2 linked regions of the Homo sapiens genome follow. The protein of the gene in region 2 binds, or shares a complex with, the protein of the main gene of each other region. Each region holds a gene or a part of one and is shown on either strand. Other genes may lie near its edges. The genes, in order: RAB8A and RILPL2.

Evidence for each region.
Region 1: the proteins of RILPL2 (region 2) and RAB8A are in contact, whole or in part, in a crystal structure (PDB 6SQ2), measured with the Homo sapiens proteins. Residues at the interface, in NP_659495.1 of Homo sapiens: Leu135, Leu138, Arg139, Leu142, Gln143, Arg145, Asn146, Lys149, Ser150, Leu153, Glu157; in NP_005361.2 of Homo sapiens: Ile41, Gly42, Ile43, Asp44, Phe45, Lys46, Ile47, Lys58, Trp62, Phe70, Ile73, Tyr77.

What each region holds. Positions count from the first base shown.
Region 1 is NC_000019.10:16,128,889-16,135,010, reverse strand, and holds the end of RAB8A (ras-related protein Rab-8A), read right to left. Parts: intron 5,458-6,122; coding exon 5,407-5,457; intron 2,800-5,406; coding exon 2,707-2,799; 3' UTR 777-2,706; downstream 1-776. UniProt on the Homo sapiens protein: The small GTPases Rab are key regulators of intracellular membrane trafficking, from the formation of transport vesicles to their fusion with membranes.
Region 2 is NC_000012.12:123,433,604-123,440,915, forward strand, and holds the start of RILPL2 (RILP-like protein 2), read right to left. Parts: upstream 3,082-7,312; 5' UTR 2,818-3,081; coding exon 2,479-2,817; intron 1-2,478. UniProt on the Homo sapiens protein: Involved in cell shape and neuronal morphogenesis, positively regulating the establishment and maintenance of dendritic spines. Plays a role in cellular protein transport, including protein transport away from primary cilia.

The sequences.
Region 1 (6,122 bases), on a different chromosome or scaffold from region 2:
GCATGCGCCACTGCACCCGGCCAATTTTTGTACTTTTTTTTTTTTTTTTTTAGAGATGGGGTCTCACTATGTTGTCCAGGATGGTCTTTAACTTGAACTGGCCTCAAGCTATTCCCCTGCCTCTGCCTCTCAAGGCACTGGGATTATAGGCATAAGCCACACACCCCAGCCCCTGGGGAGAGCTTTAAGCAAGGAGGTGACACTGATTTCAGTTTCGTAAGGACACTCTGAAAATAGTTTGAAACACAGAGGTGAGGACCTGAAACCCATGAGGAAGTGGTCACAGAGGTCCAGGTGGTCGTGGCTACAACTCGGGAGGGGTCAGCTGTGGGCACGATGGGGAAGGCAGGGATGGAGTCCAGGGTCAGGGCTGTGTTATGCTTACGGTGCCGATGAGACATTCAAATTGGAATAGAGAGTGGCAGGTGAAACCGACCTGGGTCTGGCCTGGATTTGCAGCTTGAAAGCCACTGGCCTATCTAAAAGCATAGTGTGTGCAGAAAAGAATGAATAGATCTGAGGCTGCTTCCTGAGAAAGGCCTGCTGGCAAGGTGGGCCTGCAGTTGGTAAAGTTCCCTACGGATATTAAAACTTCCCTACATGCGTGGCTCATACACTTTCTGTACAAGTGATGCGGTTTATGCTAAACCCCTGCTTTCTTTGTAGGAGTCTGGAATCCTGATAAGTGCCAGGTAGAGGGTTCCTATGTGACTGGCTCCATAAACACCTGGGTACAGAACTGCCAACTAGCTTTCACAAAAGACACATTACACACCTGTTGTTACAACTCATTGTTGGGGGAGTTAAGCATGGGGTGTGTGACCCCACTGTGAGAGGATTCTGGATGCTTCTGTCTGGTTGCCTCTGGACTTCACTCTGCATGCCTTTTCCCTTTGCTGATTTTGCTGTGATCTTGGCTGTGAGTACAGCTCTCTGCCAAGTCCTAGGGAATGACTGGACCTGGGTGTGGTCTTGGGAAGGACCCTGGATAGAGTGGAAGGAATGCCCTGGAAAGCCAGCCAGGAGAGGGCCCCTAGAAGGACCTGCCAGGGAGGCAGGAGGGACACAGTGGCCGAGCTGTGTGCCAGAAGCCAGGTGACGCAGGCTCACCATGTTGGCCAGGCTGGTCTCGAACACCTGAGCTCAAGTGATCAGCCCGCCTTGGCCTCCCAGAGTGCTGGGATTACAGGTGTGAGCCACTGCACCAAGCCAGGAGGCTTCTTTTCCCAATTTAGTCTTTTGATGATGGGTGGCATCTCCTCTGAGGTGGCCGCTCGATGGGGTAATCCATGGGCTCTACCATCTTGTCCAGACCCACCCCCAGCACCTGGCCATGTCCGTGTGGCCTACAGGGAAAATGTGGACATAAAAATCCTTGGACTTTAAGATGAGCTTTAATTTGTTTGTTTTCCTTAAGTGCATTTATCGATGTAAACAGAGCATGTTAGAGATTCCCGGGGAGAGCAGACTATTGCTGATATGTTGGTTTTAATTCAAAAGAAACGATGATGCCAATGGTTTGGATTGACAGCAGCTTAAGGAGGAAAAAAAAAAAAAGAAAGAAAAAAAGAAAAGGCTGGTGACACCCCCCTGGCGTGGTTGACCTGGTCCCAGTCGCAGTCCCTATGGGACAGCAGAGCTGTCAAAACAGAACCCAATGATGACGGCTGAAAATCAAGCCAGACTGCTGTGCGGTCAGCTTGCCGCCGTGGAATGCCTTGTGTCTTGGCCATGTCCAGCCAAGGGTACAACGTGCTTGTTCCCGATCACCCAGGTTTGCCATTGGAAGTCAAAGACAGAATCGCTTCATGGCACTACAGATGTGGAAAAATAAAAATCTCAGCTAGAAAGAACGTCCGATTTGGAGATAGCGGGAGGACACGAAGGAGTGGGGGCCATTTTGGTGCTGAGAGGAGGGTGCCCCAACTTCAGGAGGACCATGTGACGGCTGTGGTTGTTTTCGGGGTCACTTGCAGCACACACAGCGTCCCCTTGATGCTCGATGGGGACCGCAGACGGGCCTGCAGACCTAACCCCTGGCTGTGGACAGGAGAGGCTGCTCCAGGCTTCTTTCCTTCTCAATGCTTTACACAGGATTTCCTTCATTTGTGCTTTCCTTTGGTTTAACAGTTAAAAAAGAAGAGTGAGGGGGCAAAATGGTTTGTCACTTGTCCAAAACTGAGAGAAGAGGTGGAAGTGGGCGCCAAATCTCCTGGGTGATGCTTCCTGGTCCTGGCGATCGGTTGCCTTGCTCAGGGTTTGGGAGCTGTTGCTCCTGGAACCACCGCTGGCCTTCTGGGACCTCGCTTCCGTGGTAGGGGACGTGAACCAGCCTCCTGGTGGAGCTTTGTGTTGCAGTGAGGCCACAAAGCAAAGGCCCAGAGGCAGAGGCCTGACACTGGCTGTGGTCGACGGTCACACCTTGACTCCCTCTCTCTCTCTGAATATACAACGTGTGGGTGGGCCCGTTCAGCAGATGTTACAGGAAAAATAGCAAATTTTTAACTTATTCCATCTCCAAAGTTGAAAAAGATCAGACAGTTACTAAAATAAACGATTTCTCAATTGCATTCTGGTGGCCGTGGGCCCGGTGGCCGCGGCGTGGGCGGGGCGTTGGAGGTGGGAGGGCCCCGGCTGAGTGAGGGGCTCACTCAGAACAGGCACAGTCAGCTGGGCTGAGCGAGGCTCAGAGTAAGGCGGTGTTCCTCACAGAAGAACACATCGGAAAAAGCTGCTCCTCTTCTGCTGGTCCGGTGTGATTTTGACTCCCTGGTTGCTCCCCTGGGGGCTGTTGCCTTCCTGAAATCACAAGAGGTTTTCTGAGGTTATCACTGAGAATCAGCACTACGTCTCACAATCAACCAGCCATCCACCTAACCATCCACCTAACCATCCATCCAACCATCCAACCAACCAACCAACCAACCAACCAAACAACCAAACCAATCAAACCAGCCAAACCAACCAACTAACCAACGAGCCATCCAACCATCCATCCATCATCTGCCAGGTCATCCATCCATTACCATTCCAGCCATCCAACCAACCAATCAGCCATCAAACCATCCATCCATCATCTGCCAGTCCGTCCAGCTGTCCCCTTCCAACCATCCAACCAACCAACCAACCAACCAACCAACCAACCAACCAACCAACCATCCATCTATACCCTTTCAACCATCCATCCATCCACTCACCCATTCCCTTCCATCCGTCTATCCACCTGCTTCCAACCAACAAACCAATCAACCAACCATCCATCCCTTCCAACCAAGAACCATCCACTCATCCATCCCTTTCCAACCATCCATCTTCTTCCAACCATCCATCCCCTTCCAACCAACCAACCAACCATCCATCCCCTTCTAACCACCTCATCCAACCAACCATCCATCCATCCCTTTCCAACCATCCATCCACCCATCCATCTCCTTCCCCCCATCCACCCTCTTCCAACTAACCATCTCCTTCTAACCACCCCTTCTGACCAATCAACCATCCATCCATCCCCTTCCAAGCAACCACCTCCTTCCAACCAACCATTCATCCATCCCCTTCCAACCAACCAACAAACCAATCATCTATCTATCCAACCATCTCCTTCCAACAAATCAACCATCGATTTATTCCCTTTCAACCAACCATCCATCCATTATCTTCTACCCATCCATCCAATTCTCTTACAACTGATAATTCGTTTTTCAGAAACAGATCTATTTTCCATCTGCTATATACCACCCCTTCCAACCACTCTCTCACTTATCTGCCCACCCCATCATACCCTTCCCAGCACTTTGGGAGGCTGAGGCAGAAGAACTGCTTGAGCCCAGGAGTTTGAGTCCAGCCTGGGTAACAAGTGAGATCCTGCCTCTTAAAAAAGAAAAAATGGCCAGGCGGGGTGGCCCACACCTGTAATCCCAACACTTTGGGAGGCCGAGGCAGGTGGATCACCTGAGGTCAGGAGTTCAAGACCAGCCTGACCAACATGGTGAAGCCTCGTCTCTACTAAAAATACAAAAATTAGCTGGGCGTGGTGACATGTGCCTGTAATCCCAAGTACTCGGGAGGTTGAGTCAGAAGAACCGCTTGAACCTGGGAGGCAGAGGTTGCAGTGAGCAGGGATTGCACCATTGCACTCTAGCCTGGGCAACAGAGCGAGACTCCTTCTCAAAAAAAAAGAAAAAGAAAAAAAATTAGCCAGGCATGGTGGTGTGTGCTTATAGCCCCAGCTACTTGGGAGGCGGAGGTGGGAGGATTGCTTGAGCCCAGGAGTTGAAGGCTGCAGTGAGCTGTGATGGTGCCACTGCACTCCAGCCTAGGTGGCAAAGTGAGACTCTAAAAAAAAAATCTCTTTTTTAACTAATAAGAAAACTAAAAGAAAAAAGAATCAGACCTTGACCATTATACTGAAGAAAAAAAATTGCAAGAAAATCCCAAATTATTGTTGGTCAGTGCACTGGTTTCCATGAACTGTTTCCCATTTTAATTTAATGGCCAAAGAGCTGCTATTAAATCAATCACATGCCTCACTGTTCAACACACCGCATCTTAGAATTACAAAACAGATTTGCTTACATCAGATGTAAAACTTGAACGGCATTTTGTATTTTATGTGCATTCTCAAGTGACCAGACTTAACCCACAAATAGAGCGCCGTGTGCTCCTCGATTGGACAACCAATGTAACATGGCCGGGAAAGGGCAGTTGCTGGAACCAGGGCGAGGGAGGAAGGGTCACTACGGTGTTTAGGCACTAAATGCCCCCAAAGTACAGGGAAGTGTTTGATTCCATCAAGAAAGCACCATTGATACTGAGCGCAGCGGACTAGGAAATCGCTAACGTGGTAAAAAAAAAAAAGCAAGAAACGAATGAGAGGGTAGATGGGTAGGGATTCATGCAGACTTCCCTGGAGGCCTCAGAGAACCCTGGGACACAATGAAGGTTGCAGAGCTGTCACAACTTGTAGCATCTGGGGCTGGGGTGGAGCGGGGGCAGGTTCTTGATCTGCCATGCTTGTCAAGACGATGAGCCAGCAGTTATCAGACACCAGCCCTGGCCCTGCCCAAGCGACCTAGGAAGCTTTTCTCCGAGCCATGGCTCTCTGTCCTTGCACACCATGTTGTCTTTCTGGCCCTTGAGTGGAATGGAAAAGGCCGTGTGCTCCCTGCTAGCCTGGGGATTCACCGGGCACGGCCTTGTCTGCTTGGGCAGCGTCCCCAGGCTGGCACTGCCTGATGCTGATGCCCCAGCCACACCTGCAAACTCTTCCCCCTTTCCCAGCAATGTCCCATGGGGTCTGGCTGGGCCCTAAAAAGCAGGATCTAGGGCACGTCATATCACTGCTGCTAACGACGATGGCTGGATCCCAGAGATCCACCCGGGGATCTCGGAAGGACACACACTCACCAATTTTTTGTCCATTTTTGCTTTGATATCTCTGGCGAGAGTGAAAAATGCCTGTGGAATAAGCACATTGTGAGTCCTTGGGATGGCAGGACCCTGAGTCCTCAGCCGCCCGTGTACAGCGGGTGTGGTGAGACAGCTTCCCAGGCGTGGGCCTCCCATTTGGCCCTTTGATGCCCGCCTCTGGCAGTGGGTTCATCTGGCCTGTCCGGCCCCAGCTCATCCTTCCCCGGCTCCCTCTGCCTCCCACCCACCCTTACTCTCTGACATCAACTCTCACTTCCGCAGAGCACCTTAGCATTGACGGGACTTTACGCATGTGCCACCTCCCCTAAGCCCTGTGAGATGGGGCGACACTCAGTTGGCCAGAGAGGAAACTGAGGCTCAGAGAGGCCAAGTGACTTGTCCAAAGGAACCCAGCAGTTAACCGACCAATCCAGAAGGATCTAGGAGTGCCCAGTTCTTTGTCTCTGACTCCTAGGTTCTGTCAGCTCTGGCCTCCCTTCTGATGGTCAGGGAAAAAGGCAAGCAGCTCTGTGGCCAAACAAGCTTCACTCGGAGTCCTTGCCTGGCAGGGCTGGGAGCGGGAGCAGGTTCATCTCCCAGCACAGCCAAGGGTTGAGCTGCTGTCACAGCCTTGAGGAGGGGACATACAGAGATGGCGGGAGGCGTGATCCCAACATACATCCCCATGATGTGGGAGGTTCTGGAGAGGAGAG
Region 2 (7,312 bases):
GTTTCACCAGTTTGCCCAGGCTGGTCCCAAACTCCTGGCCTCAAGCGATCTGCCTGCCTCGACCTCCCAAAGTGTTGGGATTACAGGTGTGAGCCACCGCGCCTGGCCTGGTTTGTATACTTGTATTCTGGTTCTAGGACTGTGTGTCTGACCTCTCCCACTAGATGTGAGCTTCTTGAGGGCAGGGACCTTGTCTACGTTATCTCCATAGCCCCAGAGCCTAGCATCAGTCACTGCAGTCACTCATCAAATGTTAGTACAAGTAAGGTCAAATGTCTGTATTTTAGGATGGAGTATTTAGGACTAGCATCTCTGAATTAAGATCCTGACTTCACCTCTTAACTTGCCGTGAAGTCCTTAGGTAAATTACTTAACTGTTCTGTGCCTCAGTTTTGTAAAACAATAATAGTCTGAGGATTAAAAAAGACATCGTCCACTTACAGCAGCTTTTTTGTTTTTCTTTTTTAACTGTGGCTGGAGACCTGCTAGTAGGTCATAAAATTAATGAGTTTCGACAAGAATTTTAAAAACTAGGCTGGGCATGGTGGCTCAGGCCTGTAATCCCAGCACTTTGGGAGGCTGAGGTGGGCGTATCACTTAAGCCCAGGAGTTCGAGACCAGCCTGGGCAACATGGTGAGACCCCCATCTCTACAAAAATACAAAAATTAGCCAGGTGGTTGGTGTGTGCCTGTAGTCCTAGCTACTGGAGAGGCTGAAGTGGGAGGACTGCTTGAGCCCAGGAGTTTGAGGCCTCAGTGAGCTGTGATCACACCATGGTATTCCAGCCTGGATGACAGAGAAAGCTGTCCCCGCAAAAAAGACTTTTTTTTTTTTTTTGAGACAAAATCTCGCTCTGTCACCCAACCTGGAGTGCAGTGGCGCGATCTCGGCTCACTGCAACCTCTGCCTTCCGGTTTCAAGCAATTCTCCGGCCTCAGCCTCCCGAGTAGCTGGGATTACAGGCACCCGCCACCACGCCCGGCTAATTTTTTTCTGTAGTTTTAGTAGAGATAGAGTTTCACCATGTTGGCCAGGCTGGTCTCAAATTCCTGACCTTGTGATCTGCCCGCCTTGGCCTCCCAAAGTGCTGGGATTACAGGCGTGAGTCACAGCACCCAGCCAGATGATTTTTAACATATGTGTAGATCCCTATATCCATACCCTGATTAAGATATGGGACACTTCTAGCTCTCTATCAATTTCCCTTCTTTTCCCCCCACCACCAGTTTGCCTTCTATAACTATAAATTATTTTGCCTGTTCATGAATTTTATTTAAATGTACAGTAGGGCTGGGTGCTGTGGCTCAGGCCTGTAATCCCAGCACTTTGGAAGGCTGAGGTGGGTGGGTCACTTGAGGCCAGGAGTTTGAGACCAGCCTGGCCAACATGGTGAAACCCCGTCTCTACCAAAAAAGAAAAAAAAAAAATAGCCACGCGTGGTGGCACACGCTTGCAATCCCAGCTGCTCAGGAGGCTGAGGCAGGAGAATCGCTTGAATCCAGGAGGTGGAGGTTGCAGTGAGTCGAGGTCACGCCACTGCACTACAGTCTGAGCAACAGAGCAAGATTCTGACTCAAAAAAAAAAAAAATCTACAGTAGTTTCTCTTTAGTGCCTGGCTTCTTTCTCTCAATGTTACATCTGTGAGATTCATTCACACTGCTGTGTGTATCAGCACCCCGTTCTTTTTCTCTGTTGCATAGTATTCCATATATCACAATTTCAAAACTCAATTGGGTTGCATTTAGAGTGTTTCCAGTTTGGCAGCTGAGACTAAAGCTGCTCTGAATCTTCTTGTCTATGTCTTTTTGTGGTCATATGCACTAATTTCTCTTTAGGTAAAATGTGTTTCTTGTCCAAGTGTGGTGGCTCACATCCACAAGCCCAGCACTTTGGGAGGCCAAGGTGGGAGGATTCCTTGAGCTTAGGAGTTTGAGACCAGCCTGGGTAACGGTGAGACCCCCATCTCTACAAAACATCAAAAAAGTTAGCCAGGCATGGTGGCACATGCCTGTACTCCCAGCTACTTGGAAGGGCAAGGCAGGAGAATTGCTTGAGCCTAGGAGGCCAAGGCTGTAGTGAGCCGTGTTTGCACCACTGCACTCTAGCCTGGGAGATAGAGCAGGACCCTGTGTCAAAAGAAAAAAAAAGTGTTTCTTGCTCTAGGTCAAAGGTTCTCAAACTGTGGACCCTGGGCCAATAGCATCAGCATTAACTGCGAACTCGTTAGAAATACAGATTCTGGCCAGGCAGGGTGGCTCACACCTGTAAACCCAGCACTCTAGGAGGCTGAGGCTGGGGGATCACTTGGAGCCAGGAGTTTGAGACCAGCCTGGGCAACACAGCGAGATCCCATCTCTTAAAAAAAGAAAAAAGAGAAAAGAGAAGAGAAAAGAAAAGGAAGGCGTCTCCCTGCCAGTAGGTGCCCTCCTACGCCCCGCAGGCGCCGTGGGCCCGGAACCCTCGCTCCCACACTCACCTCCCCGCTGGCCGGAGGGCTCTGTCTCCGCAGCCCCTCCACCTCCTTCCTGAGGTGGTCCCTCTCCATCTTCAGCTCCTCCAGCGCCAGGCTGCCCTCATTCACCAGCGCCTCCAGCATCTCCAGGACGCGGACGACTTTGAACTGCAGCTGCGTCACCCGGGGGTCGCTGCCCAGGGCCATAAGCTCGCGGCCCAACAGGTAGGAGATGTCATACACGTCCTCGGCGGTCAGCTGGAAGGGGCTCTTGCCCAGCGCCCCCTCGGGCCCAACCTCGTCCCTCTCCTCGTCCTCCTCTCCCTCCTCCTCTTCCTCTTCTCGCACAGGGGGCTCCTCCATGGCCACCCAGACCCCCGCCGACCTCGGAGCTGCTGTCTTGGAGTCTCCCAAAGGTTAGACTTCCTCCCGGCACCCAAAACTTTCCGCTGGGCAGAGTCCCTACCTGCCCAATCAGCGCGGCCCGGGGGTGGGCCCGGGGGGATGGTGCAAGGGGCCGCGCACGCGACTCTTGGGCCTGCGCCCCGGCGCACCGTCCCCGCTGCCAGCCACGCTGGAGAGTGCGCTCCAGGATGTGGTTTGGGGCGCGAAGGGACAACGGAAAAGGAGGCAGCCGAGAAGAGGAACGGGGAAGTTCAGGGGTGACGGCAATCGCCCCAGCCTGGGAACAGTTGCAGCCCCGGGGAGGAGCCGCCCTGAGCCCCGCCCCTGGCGACCGCTGCCAGGAGGTGCGTTTCCGTGGAGACGGAGTTTCCACCGTGCAATCCAGAGCGGGGTAAAAAGAACGCAACTTTTTCCTTTCCACCCTCGTGCTTTCCAGCCGTAGAATTTGCATCGTAGGTGATGGAAGATCCGGGTGTCTCTTTGAGGGTGTTTTCTGGAGCCTGCGGCCAAACAGAAAGCAGCTGCTGGGGGCAGCGCGACAGAGTCCCCGAGGCTTGAGGATCTGGAAAACTCCCAGGCAAATTGTCACTAGGGCCTGGGGCGTCCGACTTCGCTGTGACTCTCAATAAAATGGAGAATGTCTGCCCTGCTCACTTCGCTGGGTCCTCGGCTCCTCCACGTAACCAGCGCTGTCACCTTGGCAAGTTACTTAACGTCTCCGAGCCTCAGTCTCCTCCTCTGTAAAATGGGGACAATAGCGGGACCCAGGTGGCAGGGTTGCTGCGAGGAACATGAGCTTATGAGATCATGTGTGCGACACCTCAAGCACTTAGGAAGCACTCACATACGTGACTGCAATCCTTCATTCTTTCTTTCTTTCTTTCTTTCTTTTTTTTTTTGAGACGGAGTCTCCCTGTGTCGCCCAGGCTGGAGTGCAGTGGCGCGATCTCGGCTTGCTGCAAGCTCCGCCTCCCAGGTTCACGCCATTCTCCTGCCTCAGCCTCCCGAGTAGCTGGGACTACAGGCACGCGCCACCACGCCCGGCTAATTTTTTTGTATTTTTAGTAGAGACGGGGTTTCACCATGTTCGCCAGGATGGTCTCGATCTCCTGACCTCGTGATCCACCTGCCTCGGCCTCCCAAAGTGCTGGGATTACAGGCGTGAGCCACCGCGCCCGGCCCCTTCATTCTTTCTTCCACAGCGCTAGGGAGGAATTGCTGGTGTTGGAGACACCTTGCTACTTGGGTGAGAGAAGGAGGAGTAATTAACAAGAGAGAAACCCCTGTCTGAAAATCACAAAGCATTCGACACATATGCGGAATCCATATTACTGAGAATATTAGCAGAGTGGCGTAGAAACTTGAGTCATTCGCTGTGGCTCATGCCTTAATCTCAACACTTCAGGAGGCTGACGCAGGAGGATTGCTTGAGCCCAGGAATTTGAGACTAGCTTGGGCATCATAGTGAGACCCTGTCTCTACAAAAAGTAAACAAAAGTAGCTGGACACAGTGGTTCATGCCTGTAGTGGCAGGTACTCGGGAGGCTGAGGTGGGAGGACCACTTGAGCCCGGGATGTTGAGGCTGCAGTGAGCCAAGATCTCACCACAGAGTGGTGCCTGTGACAGAGTGGGACCATGGTGACAGAGTAAGATCATGTCTCAAAAAAAAAGGCACAACAAATCTCAAGTTATTTTAGGTTTCACTGGAGGTTTGTGATAGTCTCAGGCAGAAAGCTCAGCAACGGGGCTTGTCTTTCCCAGGAATGTATTGGCAGCTTTCCTTGTGATAGGTGTATCCATTTTCTCCACACTGAGGTACTAGAATCTCAATGGAGAATGTACATAGATTAAACCAACCAACAAAAGCAAAGCAAATTAACAAAACACACTATTTTCAGAGGGTCGTTTCTTTTTATTTTATTTTATTTTATTTTATTTATTTGTTTATTTATTTATTTAGAGACAGAATCTTGCTCTGTTGCCCAGGCTGGAGCTCAGTGGCATGATCTCGGCTCACCGCAACCTCCGCCTCCCTGGTTAAAGCAATTCTTCTACCTCAGCCTCCCCAGTAGCTGGGACCACAGGCGCATGCCGCCCCGCCTGGCTAATTTTTTGTATTTTAGTAGAGATGGGGTTTCACTGTGCTGCCCAGGCTGGTCGCGAACTCCTGAGCTCGGGCAATCCTCCCACCTGGGCCTCCCAAAGTGCTAGGATTACGGGCGTAAGCCACCCTGCCTGGCCTATTTTACTTTTATAAAATAAAAAAGTCAGGCCGAGATGGGCGGATCACGAGGTCAGGAGACCGAGACCATCCTGGCTAACACGGTGAAACCCTGTCTCTACTAAAAATACAAAAAAAATTAGCCGGGTGTAGTGGCGGGCGCCTGTAGTCCCAGCTACTCGGGAGGCTGAGGCAGGAGAATGGCGTGAACCCGGGGACAGAGCTTGCAGTGAGCCGAGATCGCGCCACTGCACTCCAGCCTGGGCAACAGAGCAAGACTCGGTCTCAAAAAAAATAAATAAAAATAAATAAATAAATAAATAATAAATAATAAAAAAATAAAATAAATAAAAAAGCCTCACTCTGTTGCCTAGGTTGGAGTGCAGTGACACGATCTCGGCTCACTGCAACCTCTGCCTTCCAGGTTCAAGCGATTCTCCTGCCTCAGCAGCCCCACCCCGAGTAGCTGGGATTACAGGCACGCGCCACCATGCATGGCTAATTTTTTGTATTTTTAGTAGAGACGGGATTTTACCATGTTGCCCAGGCTGGTCTCCAACTCCTGACCTCAGGATGATCCACCTGCCTCAGCCTCCCAAAGTGCTGGGATTACAGGCATGAGCCACCATGCTTAGCCTTTCTTCTTCTTCTTTTTTTTTTTTTTTGAGATGGAGTTTTGCTCTTGTAGCCCAGGCTGGAGTGCAGTGGCATGATCTCTGCTCATTGCAACCTCTGCCTCCTGGGTTCAAGCGATTCTCCTGCCTCAGCCTTGCAAGTAGCTGGGATTATAGGCGCCCACCACCACACCCAGCTAAGTTTTGTATTTTTAGTAGAGACAGGGTTTCACCCTGTTGGCCAGGATGGTCTCCAACTCCTGACCTCAGGTGATCTGCCCGCCTCTCCCTCCCAAAGTGCTGGGATTACAGGCATGAGCCCAGCCTATTTTTTCTTAAGAGATGAGGCTTTGCTCTGTCACCCCAGCTGGAGTGCAGTGGCATGATCACAGCTCACTGCAGCCTTGAACTCCTGGGCTTAAGTGATCCTCCCACCTCAGCCTCCTGAGTAGCTGGGCCTACAGGTGCTTGCCACCATACCTGGCTAATTTTTTTTTTTTTTTTTTTTTTTTTGAGACAGAGTCTTGCTCTGTTGCCCAGGCTGGAGTGCAGTGGTGCAATCTCGGCTCACTGCAAGCTCCGCCTCCCGGGTTCATGCCATTCTCCTGCCTCAGCCTCCGAAGTAGCTGGGACTACAGGCGCCCGCCACCACGCCCGGCTAATTTTTTGTATGTTTTAGTAGAGACAGGGTTTCACCATGTTAGCCAGGATGGTCTCGATCTCCTGACCCCGTGATCCGCCTGCCTTGGCCTCCCAAAGTGCTGGGATTACAGGCATGAGCCACCGCACCCTGCCTTTCTTTCTTTTTTTTTTTTAAGAGACAAGGCCTCGTTCTGTCGCCCTGGCTGGTCTCAAAATCCTGGCCTCAAGTAATCCTCCCACTTTGGCCTCCCAAAGTGCGAGGATTACAGGAATAAGCCACTGTGCCCCGCCAGGAATGTTGTAATAATCAAAACGAAGCTCCTGGGCAAGGGCCTAGAAGTCCACAAATCACAGAGTGACAACATCTAGTGGTTAAATACTGAGATGAAATATTAGGCCTGCCATACATAAAAGAGGGTATGCCCATCCAATAGAATAGTATTCAGCCATAACAAAGAATGAAAAATAAAATAGCTCGTAAATAAATTGTTGCATATATTGGCAAATGATTTTCAATAAGGGAGCCAAGACCATTCAATGGGGCAAGGACAGTCTTTTCAACCAATGGAGTTCACCATATACAAAAAATTAACTCAAAGTGCATCTAAGGGCCATCACAGTGGCCAGGAGTTGGAGAACAGTCTGGGCAATACAGTGAGAACAATCTCTACAAAAAGTAAAAATGGAGCCAGGTGCCGTGGCTCACGCCTGTAATCCCAACACTTTGGGAGATGGAGGTGGGCAGATCACTTGAGGTCAGGAGTTCGAGACCAGCCTGGCCAACCTGGTGATGGAGAATGGAGAGTTGTCGTTTAATGGGGATAGAGTTTCAGTTTTGCAAGATCAGAAAGTTCTGGAGATTGGCTGCACGTGAGCCACTGTGCCCGGTCAAGAGATGTTAATTTTGAGGGGCCTGGTGGCTCATGCCTGTAATCCCACAGCACATTGGGAGGCTTACGCCTGATGATTATTTGA